3 linked regions of the Homo sapiens genome follow. The protein of the gene in region 1 purifies or fractionates together with the protein of each later gene. This does not show direct contact. Each region holds a gene or a part of one and is shown on either strand. Other genes may lie near its edges.

Region 1 (3,656 bases):
ATTATCTCTTCACCTTTGCTTATAATCCAACACTTGAATTTGTATTTGGAATCCCTTCAATAAATGGGATTCTCTTTACCAAAAAAGGCAGCTCAACCTTCTGTCCAACTATAACTCCTACCACATTACACAGTACTATAACTGGTACCACATTTACACAGTACCTATATTAAAAATCTAAAAGTCATCCATGACTTTCACCTTTCCTTTCTCCTCTCATCTCTGCGTACAACTCACACCTGCCAGGGAGTGCTAATAAATCTTGACTTTGAGTGTCTTTTAAACATATTCTCTCTTCCCAGTCCCTACGCTGGTACTTGAGTGCAGACCTACTGCTTTGAATTATTTTATTGGCCTCTCTGTTTCTAGTTATCACTGGCAATCCACTCTTCACAACACTATTAGAATTACCTGTTTTGTTTTATTTTATTTTATAATTTTATTTTAATTTTATTTAATTTTAATTTTAATTTTATTTTATTTTATTTTATTTTATTTTATTTGAGACAGGGTCTCATTCTGTTGCCCAGGCTAGAGTACAGTGGCATGATCTCGGCAGCCTAGATGTCCCAGGCTCAACTGATCCTCCCATCCCAGCATCTCAAGTGCCAGGACCACAGGTGCACACAACCACGCCTGTCTAATTTTTGTATTTTTTGTAGTGACAAGATTTCGCCACGTTGCCCAGGCTGGTCTCGAACTCCTGGGCTCAAGCAATCCGCCTACCTCAGCCTCCGAAAGTGCTGGTATTACAGGCATGAGCCACCGTGCCCAACCAGAATTATCTTTTCTAAACAATTATTTTCAGTATTCTAATAGGTTCCAGTTTTAAGCCTGATGAAGCCCAAACTCCTTAGCAAACATACCTACCTAAAGATACTCACCCTGTCTCCCTAAGCAGTGTTTTTAGGCACTGATAATGCAAAGGACTTAGGGAGCTCGGACTGGTGGGTCTCAATCAAATGTCACCTCCTCTTGTTATAATTGTTTATGTATCTTACCTTTCCCACCTCTCTGGAATATGTTTTCAGTGAGTAGTTCTGAAATGTATTCATTTCTGATATTCATCCCAAAATATTTAATGAAAACCTAAGTTCTCAGTTTTGTACCTATTAGCAAAATATAGATGTTTTTGAAATGAAAAAATATACCTGAAAATTATGGCAACTGTTTATTCCAGGAAGAAGTTTGGCTTTTGAGTCAACAAAAAAAGTAGATGTGCAACAAACATCTTATGCCCTTTGGACCTCATCAGCCCCAAGAGAGCTGTATATAACCATGGCCCATAATGTCAGGGAAACATCATTTTTAAAATGTTTTGTAGAGGACTCAATAACCTAAAGTTAAAGGTTGAGGTACAGTCACAATTTTTACCATAAAGTCATGGTAAAATATGCATGTTGGAGCCCTTTTGAGGTATGGAATTTAGGGAACTCTGTCAATGTAATTCTGAGCATATACACTGGGACTTTGCAGCTTGAATGCTGAATCTCCTGTTTTCTTTATACAATGTGGCTGTGTAGAACAGCTCCAAGAAATCCGTTATTATCTTCTCTGACTCCTCCTTGAGTGGTTTGAAGGGTCCCCCTCCCATTGCACCAGTCATTTAGAGATGAAGGCATGCATGCTTCCTCAAATCATTGCGACCTGCTGTCATAATGTCAGTTTCAGTGGTATGTGGTATTAGAATGATGGAAGAGTTTTATTCAGCATAGGATAGAGCAGGGGTCAGCAAACTACAGCCAGCCACCTATTTTTGAAAGCCTTGCAAGCTGTTTTTACATTTTTTATGTTTTACATTTTTTAATAGTTAAAAAAATTAGAATAAGAGTAATATTTAATAACATGAAAAGCTTATGAAATTAAATTTCAGTGTAAAAGGTTCATTGGAAGCCAAACATACCCATTCATTTACCTTTCTTGTATGGCTGCTTTTGTTCTGCAACAGTGGACTTGAGTCATTGCTGCAGAGACCCTCTGGTCCACAAAGCCAAAAATATTTACCATCTTGCTTGCCCTTCACAGAAAAACTTGCTGACCCTAGTATAGTACAGGATATGTTGGAAAGAAAAGAATAAATCTAGAACTGTGAGGAATGTTTCCAGAAAAACAAAGGTGGTGTCAGTGTAGTCATTGATATGAAAGGAGAGCCGTGGGAACTGCATTCTAGCACCTAAAGGAATGGGTGAGGAGCATGAGCAACAGATGAATAAGTATGGGGAAGAGGCCCCAGAATTTAGCAATGGCTGTTCTGTAACAGGGCTCCCACAGTTCACAGGTTAGCAATGTGTGTGAGTCCGTGTTTAATTTGCCCTGTTAAATTCTAACTTCTAGGTTTTGATCTTTCATTCTAGACTACTGACATAATTTTGAGTTCCAATTCTGTTTGCTGAATTAGCTGTCTTTCCATTTGGTCTTTAAAAATAGACTTTCAGGCTATGTAATAAGTAGTTTTTTACTTACTGCACAGTACTTTATTGCTTTGAATGTCAGGTGTGGCAACAGTAAACATTTGTGTGTGTGATATGTGTTTGAGGGCCGTTCTACTGAGTCATTTCTAATTTACCAGGAACATGTTTGCTGCCAATTATATGTTGAGACTTCATTTCAGACGAATTTTTTACAAATTAAACTTTCTCTTCTCTTGAAACTTCAGACATGTAGGTATGAAAATATCAAATTAATAACAATTGTTTTCTGTCTTAAAAGAATTCAGAGATCATTGGGAACCTTTTAAAACTTGATGGAGATGTTAGCCTAATGATTTTGTGGGATAAAATGAAAGGTATTAATTACTCTTTGAGGAATTCATTTATAGTTACTCTCTCCCATATCTGTAGAAGTCTTTCATATTTCTGTGAACAAAAGAACTTTTATCTGAATAAGGGTGCTGCTAGGTAGGTTGTTACCAAATTGAACAGCCATAGGGCTATGCTTAAGGATTTGTCATTCCACATTTATATTACTAATGATAAAAACATGGAGGACATGAAAATTATATTTGCAGTTAACAATAGCTGGGAAGGAAGAATTACTCAAAATTATGTCAGTAGTCTAGAATGCTAGATCAAAGCCTAGAAGTTAGAATTTAACAGGGCAGGCCAGGCATGGTGGCTCATGCCTACAATCCCAGCATTTTGGGAGGCCGAGGTGGGTGGATCACTTGAGGCCAGGAGTTCGAGACCAGCCTGGCAAACATGACGAAACCCCATCTGTACTAAAAAAAAAAAAAAAAAAAAATCAAAAAATTAGCTGGGCATGATGGTATGTGCTTGTAATTCCAGCTATTCAGGAGGCTGAGGCATGAGAATTGCTTGAACCCGAGAAGCGGAGGTTGCAGTGAGCCGAGATCGTGCCACTGCACTCCAGCCTGGGTGACAGAACGAGACTGTGTCTCAAAAACAACAACAAAAAAGAATTTAACAGGGCAATTAAAGCCTTGCACTTAATTTTTTAGAAAGCTTTTTAAAAAAATAGATTCAGGGGTACAAGTGCATTTGTGTCACATGGATATATTGGGTCATGGTGAAGTCTGGGCTTTTAGTGTGCTCATCACCTAAATAGCGTACATTGTACCCAATAGGTAGTATTTAATTCCTCACCCCCTTCCCACTCTCTTACTGTTTGGTCTGTTTTTCCACTCTATGCCTGTGTAT
Region 2 (3,656 bases), on another chromosome or scaffold:
AGCTTTCCTACTACAAAAAGCTTTATATTTCCTTGGGGTTGATTTATAAATAAGAGAAACTTCAGTGTGGGGGGCTGTGTGTGTGTGTCAGATTTAACAAACATTGATGATTAACTACAATTTACTCTTCACTGGTGGCACCTGGACTAATAATGGAGACTCTGTTCTCAACAGCTGCATAGTCTGGGATAGCCAGGCAAGCAAATGATGAAAATGAAATGTGCTGAGTGGAAAGTATTAGTGAGGGAAGACTTGCTAAGGGAACTGTGCTTTAAAGCAAGTAGTAAGACTTGTTCAGGAATTGAGGAAGTCAAGAGAAGAGAGGGAAATGGCATTCATAGGTAGAGAGGGAGCAGCTTGTGCAAAGGCATGAATTGTGAAATGAAAATACATACTTTGTTTTTACCGGCAATAAAGTGGGATCAGAATTACAGCAAAAAGCATTTCTCAGAGGTCTATCTGCTATGGTAAATAGTTTGGATTTTATCATCTTATAGTCAATGGGATCAGTGAAGAATTTTTAACAGTGAAGAAACTCAAGTTGATTTACATTTTTTCAAGATAGTGTGATCTTTATAGCTGTATTTTGGTATTTTGTTTATCTTTGACCTCCAATCCATGCTTAAGTGGGAAGTGAATTACGATATGATAGCAGAGAGAACTAAGTATTTGAGAGTATTTGAGACCAATTTTAAGAGTTAGAATCGATGGGAGGTTGACTGACTATTTGGGAGGATGAATGAGAAAGAGGACTCTACGGAAAATATAGGAATTGAACAAATTGGGGCAAGTGATTGATATTAGTGTACATATATTTGTTCATCCAGCATATGTGGAATATATTCTCATCCAAATACCGTGTTATAAAATTCACTCTAAAAAGGTGAATCTCCAAGGAAAGGGTGTCTTTGGAGATAAGCCGTAATGACTGTCAGCTGCTGAAAATAAAAGGCTTGTTTCTATTTAAGTTCTTGTTCTGATTTATTGAACATAGAAACACGTACATAATGTACACGGAACAACTCTAGATACCAATGAGGTGAAATGTAAATCAAGAAACATGTTGTATACATGCATGCCAACATACCTCAAAGTAGGACAAGGATCATTAAGGACTCAGAGCTGGAAGAGAGGGAATTCTGATTTCCTTATATCTTCAAGAGCTTGGACAGGTGGAGAGGGAAGAGAGTGGAGATAGGCATACCACTGGGAAAAGAACATAAACAAAAGGACCAGAGATGGGAATAAGAAGAATTTAGATGGAGGCCCATCCATAGAAAGTCTTGAAATCTAAATTTAATTCAACAAGTTTTGAAGTAATTTTAAATTTTTAAATAGAAGACTGTTCTATAATGTACACGTGTGTGTATGTGTGTGTGCATAGTTTATCAACTACTTTCTTTGGAATAGATGTAAATTTACAGAAAAGTTGTAAAGATAGTTCAGAGAGTTCATGTAAATCACATTCCCATATATCCCAAATCCACTTTCTCCTGTTGTTAATATTGTACATTACTATGGTTAATCTCTCACAATTAATGAAACAAAATTGATATATTTGTAAGTAAAGTTCATAGTTTATTAGAATTTCCTTTGCTGTTATTTAATGTCCTTTTTTGGTTTCAGAATATCACATTACTTTTAGTCAACTTGTTTTATTTTGAAAAGATGAACCTGGCTGTATGTAGAATAGATTAGAGAGGGGTAAATCTGAATTCAGATTAGAAGATCATGGTCTAGAAAAAATAGCACATCAATTCATAATGCTTTGTCTGCAAATCTGAACTCTGAAAAGCTATGAAAAACTAATTCACTTGTGGCCAAATTTAATTTGACCTGTACTTAATGTGGATATTCATTCATTTAATTGAAGAAATATATTAATCTGTTTTATGGAGTACTATCCCAGACTCCTCCGAGGCATTTTAGAATATACCTTGCTAAAATTTGAGTAATTCAGAATTTTAAATACATTTTGCCTCAAGGGTTTCAGAAAAGGAACTGTGACCTGAGGTGTATATGAGACCCTTCATTTGAGTTGTGTTAATGGGGGGCACACAGGAAAGAGGAAAGTATCAATAGTAGTTTAGACAGCGAAATGTCAGAAAGATAGTTTCTGAGGTGATTTTAACACTCTCACATTATAGTGCATAGAAGAGCATATATATTTGTAAATAAGAAAATTTGGTTGTGATGCTCTTAGAAAATATTTTTTCATTACCAATTGTACAATATAGGGAGCTTTGTACATGCACTTAATTTGGAAGAAAGCTAGAGAGAGGTCTAAATTCAGAACTCCTTGGAAGAATGTGCCTCTTAAGAAATTCCTATATTCTTCATTAATATTTATTTTTTAAGAAATCGAACAGAAACAAATTATATTCAGAAAATGTATGTGAATTTAGATCTCATCTATAATTTTAATCCTAAACTTCTCAATTTAAATATTTTAAAACAAGTTAGGATGCCTTATTAAAAAATAAGATTATGGAATTCTACATATTAATGGAAAAAGTATTTTAATTAAAAAAAGGGATGATTTCCTGATTGGTTAAAATTAAGAATTACAGTAAAAATAAAATACATGAGAATTTTTAAAGAACATCACTAAATTTTCTTTAAAAGCTAAGCCTCTCATTATATTATATGACTTTGTTCTCCTGGTATTTTAAACTAGACTGTCATATAAGCATTACTTCTATTAGAATAGTAACAGTTTGTTTATGTTATTCAAATATCTGCTATTTGTTTTATTTGTATGTTAGATTTGACTCTGGAGCTTCTGTGGGAATATATGTACACACTCCCTCCTTAATATTTGTAATATTATTTTTTTTTTTTTTTTGCTTAAAAGTGACCTTAACTTCGATATAATGGATTATCACCGTTTTAAACTTTTTATTCCTTGCAAACTAATAGAGTTGTTGTGAATTCTTAAGTAATGTCTTCTCCAGAATATTTGTAAATGTGGTTATGAAAAGTAATCTCATCCTAGTCCTTTGTATTTCATGTGCTGAGGAAAGGCTTAGCCTGCTTTTGATTGAGACTTTTCCCATTTTATTGAGCAGTGGTGTTCCAGGCTCAAGCTGAATTGCATGACGTAAGAAAGGAGCAGTGAGCATTTGATGAAAGTACATGATAAAATGCATCAATTGTGTCAGCATCTCGTTGCAGTCACATCTGGCTTACTGTCAGGGTCCCATTAGATTCCTGTGGTTTTATGTGCCAAAAATAATATGCTCTGTAGTGAATGGAACCAGGATATTAGCAGTTTGATTAAAAAAAAAATCATCTTATTTTCTTTCAGATCTTTGTCAGGCTTAAGTTCCATCTCTGAGCTGCCATGTCTCTTTAAAATTTTACGACTGAGAGATCAATTGTTCTTTTGATCTGTTTCTTTCTTTTTCCTTATTACAGTGATTCCAGCAGTCTCAGCAGCACTGATGCTGGATTGTTTACCAATGATGAGGGAAGACAAGGTACTGAAATGATATTTTTTTCTCTCTTTGGAAAAACTTCTTCATTCTAAAGTGGAGCTTATTACTGGTTATTTCATAAGTTGATGACTGCAATCCATTTACCTTACACATATTACTTAGTGAACTAGGATTTAGTATCGTAGCTGGTTTTTTATATGCTATGGAGGGTGTCCTGTC
Region 3 (3,656 bases), on another chromosome or scaffold:
TTTTTTTTTTGCAGGATGAAGGCATTCATGGTAAGGGAAAGGAGGGGAAAGACAGAGCATTTCCGGAAGAAGGGACAGTGCACACAAAGGTGTGGAGGAGAAAGGACACATGGAAGACAGAGGATGAGGTGGAACTAGGAGGGGACAGTGTCTCAAACAAGTGGAGATACAGAAAATGATGTTGGAAATGTAGGCAGGACACAGACATGAGCAGCCACAGCACTAGCCACAGGCAGACTCCAACTGGCTCTGGCTTTTCACTGGTGACTGTAAACACATTCCTACTTTTCTCTTAGCTTTGATAAATATAGTGGCTTCCTGACAATACAGACATGTAATACTGCCTTCCTGTGCTCTCTACCTTGTTTTGAGTGGTGGTTACATGGCTATATACAGTTGTCAAAACTCATCTAACTGGCTGGGCGCAATGGCTCATGCCTATACTCCCAGCACTTTGGGAGGCTGAGGCGGGTGGATCGCATGAGGCCAGGAGTTTGAGACCAGCCTGGCCAACATGGCGAAACCTTGACTCTACTAAAAATACAAAAATTAGCTGGGCGTGGTAGCAGACACCTGTTACCCCAGCTACTTAGGAGGCTGAAGCAGGAGAATCGCTTGAACCTAGGAGGCAGAGGTTGCAGTGAGCTGAGATTGTGCCACTGCACTACAGCCTGGGTGACAGAGAGAGACTGTCGCAAAAAACAAACAAACAAACATACTAACAAAAGCAAACCCAAACAAAACCCCTCATCTAACTGAACATCTAATATCTGTGCATTTTAATTTCTGTGTTAATTATACCTTTATTTAAAACATTTTTAAAAATTGCCATTCTGTGGCTATACAAGTTCTGGCTTATGTTTCATTTTATTTGCTTTCTGTTTAAAAAACTAGGAATGATATGCTCACTCACCATTGCAGTTGCTAGTCTTGTCTCTTTGTCAGACTTTGGCTTTTTATGAAGGCGTTCAATGTCCCGAAGAGAAAGTAATTCACCCCTGGGGTGAGGGAAAAATAACACATGAAACAAGAATGGAATTCTGTTTCCTGATGCTTTCATTACCACATGAGCTGACTGAAGTACTAAAGTGGATGTGCCATTTTACCTGGGCTCTTCATCACTGTCTATTTCAATGTATTTCCTCTTCTGGGATTTCCCGGGGGCAGCATCAAGTTCTTTTCTCATTTGGGCCATGCGGATTTTCTGGAAGTCTTCCTGAGTTAAAACTCGGCTAGTGCTGATGGCTGCAGCTTTGGCCTTCCGCTCCTCCATGGGCATGCTGTTCAGCTTCTTGGACTTGAAACCACACAAGGGCTTAAATGGCTACCAGCTCAAGTGAGAGCTCAGCCATTTAAATTGTAGCCTCCCAACAAGGCCCAGAATAAATTACGTCTTAATAAACACCAGGTTATAAGATGAAATTTTCAGACTTACGATTTCTTGCTGTTCTTCATCGGAAGAGTGTTGCACATCAATCCATTCACCATCAGCATCCTCCTCCTCACTGAGACTGGTACTTTCCCATCCATCTGCGTGAAAAAAGCAAACCCACTACTGCCATTTTATGTTGCACATTCAACATAAAGTTGAGATGAAGCAAGCAACAGAAAAGTAATGAACCTTGAACAGATACATTATTAACCAAGAACTGAGCAATATTTATTGTTAAATAAACAATGTGCCTTTAGTTAATCTAAGGAATAGGAAATAGGCACTGATCAAGTATCTACCATGAGTCAAAACCTTACAATCACTCTCTCTAACCCTCATAACTCCAAAGAAAAGGAACAGATGCTCAGAGTTTAGTAATGTGCCCCAAGCCACACCGCTAAAAAGGCATCCTACACTGAAATCATGAAAATCATGTCTACCTTTAGGGTCATGTTCTTTCAACTAAACCAACTGTGTCCATCAAAACTGCACTTGTACATTTATCCTGGCCACGCAGCAGGCATCTAATTTGTCCTATGCGTGTTACCCACGTATGAGAATCTAGTTAGTCATTCAGACAACTGAGGTAGAATATTTGGGATGTTAAAGAATCCTGAAGACACCTCAATAAAAAGGTATCAGGCTTCTTAATGGAGCCACCACAGTTTAAATTTTCTAAATCACAGACACTGCAATCTTTCCATGACTCCCTATGATCTTTAAGAGAACGTGCCAGCTCTTTTGTCTGGCATATACATAACCAAGTATGAAAAGGTCACCAAACTCTATCTCAAGCCTCCTGTCTTTCTATGTTCCATCTTGTATCCTACATTCTAATAGTTAGTTCCCTAAATCCTTCAAGACTTTGCTCACACTTTGCCTGGAAAGTCTCTGCTATTCTAGCATTCCTTGCCAAATACCTGGCTCATCAGTCACCATCTCTCCAAAGCCCTTTAAAAAAAAAAAAAAAAAGGCCGGGTGCAGTGGCTCACGCCTGTAATCCCAGCCCTTTGGGAGGCTGAGGCGGGCGGATCACAAGGTCAGGAGATTGAGACCATCCTAGCTAAAACGGTGAAACCCCGTCTCTACTAAAAAATACAAAAAATTAGCTAGGTGTGGTGGCGGGCGCCTGTAGTCCCAGCTATTCGGGAGGCTGAGGTAGGAGAATGGCGTGAACCCAGGAGGTGGAGCTTGCCGTGAGCCGAGATCACGCCACTGTACTCCAGCCTGGGCGACACAGCAAGACTCTGTCTCAAAAAAAAAAAAAAAAAAAAAAAAAAAAAAACCTAAAAAAAAACTTCCGAGGTGGACCTGACTGCTCTCCTGCCCTTATGCCCCCACCCACTCCAATCATAAATCCTGTTAACACTTCATTCTTCAGCCCTTTGGAAGCCCTCTAGAGCAGAAATAATACCATTCATCTTTGCATTGGCAGTGGCTGGCTCACAACAAATGCTTAAGAGGGCTTTGATCAAATAGGCTGGGTGCACTGGCTCACGCCTGTAATCCCAGCACTTTGGGAGGCCAAAATGGGAGGATCACCTGAGGTTAGGGGTTCAAGACCAGCCTGGCCAACATGGTGAAACCCTATCTCTACTAAAAATAAAAAAATAAGTCAGGCATGGCTGCACACGCCTGTAATCCCAGCTACTCAAGATGCCGAGGCAGGAGGATCGCTTGAACCTGGGAGATGGAGGTTGCAGTGAGCTGAGATCGTACCACTGCACTCCAGCCTGGGCAAGAGCGAGACTCCAACGTGAGGAAAAAAAAAAAAGATTTGCTGAATAATGAATGAATGGACAGGAAGAATACACGACTCTGGAAATTAGAATGGAGTTCCTCGAGTATTTGCCCACAAATTCAACATGCATTCTCCTTCAACAAGGAGAATTTTGGGGGATTCCTCTAAGGGCTAACCCCCGTAATTTTTTCTAGGCAACAAACACAAGATCATTGTCTTTCTCAAGCACCAAACAGCATGCCCTTGGATGAGCGGCAGCCACCCCGAAGGTCATGAAAAGGCATTTCCTATGCTAGAACATAAGTTCCGCAAGAGGAGGAACCATGCTCAATTGATCCCCCATACTTCTAACAGTGCGTGGCACATAGTCATTGCTCAATAAATATCTGCTGAATGAATGTTCAAATAGTATACAATTTAAAGGTCTGCACAGATACTGCAGGAGTGTTTTGCCCAAAATAAGGGTGAAATAAAAATCAACCT

The links.
Region 2: the proteins of STK17A (region 1) and GPATCH2 purify together in Homo sapiens (affinity purification with mass spectrometry, with the first as the bait; one large-scale study listed by BioGRID). This does not show direct contact.
Region 3: the proteins of STK17A (region 1) and SDAD1 purify together in Homo sapiens (affinity purification with mass spectrometry, with the first as the bait; one large-scale study listed by BioGRID). This does not show direct contact.

Annotation. Positions count from the first base shown.
Region 1 is NC_000007.14:43,589,469-43,593,124, forward strand, and holds part of STK17A (serine/threonine-protein kinase 17A), read left to right. Parts: intron 1-3,656.
Region 2 is NC_000001.11:217,613,964-217,617,619, reverse strand, and holds part of GPATCH2 (G patch domain-containing protein 2), read left to right. Parts: intron 1-3,417; coding exon 3,418-3,479; intron 3,480-3,656. UniProt on the Homo sapiens protein: Enhances the ATPase activity of DHX15 in vitro.
Region 3 is NC_000004.12:75,956,412-75,960,067, forward strand, and holds part of SDAD1 (protein SDA1 homolog), read right to left. Parts: coding exon 3,655-3,656; intron 1,531-3,654; coding exon 1,436-1,530; intron 1,298-1,435; coding exon 1,107-1,297; intron 999-1,106; coding exon 914-998; intron 1-913.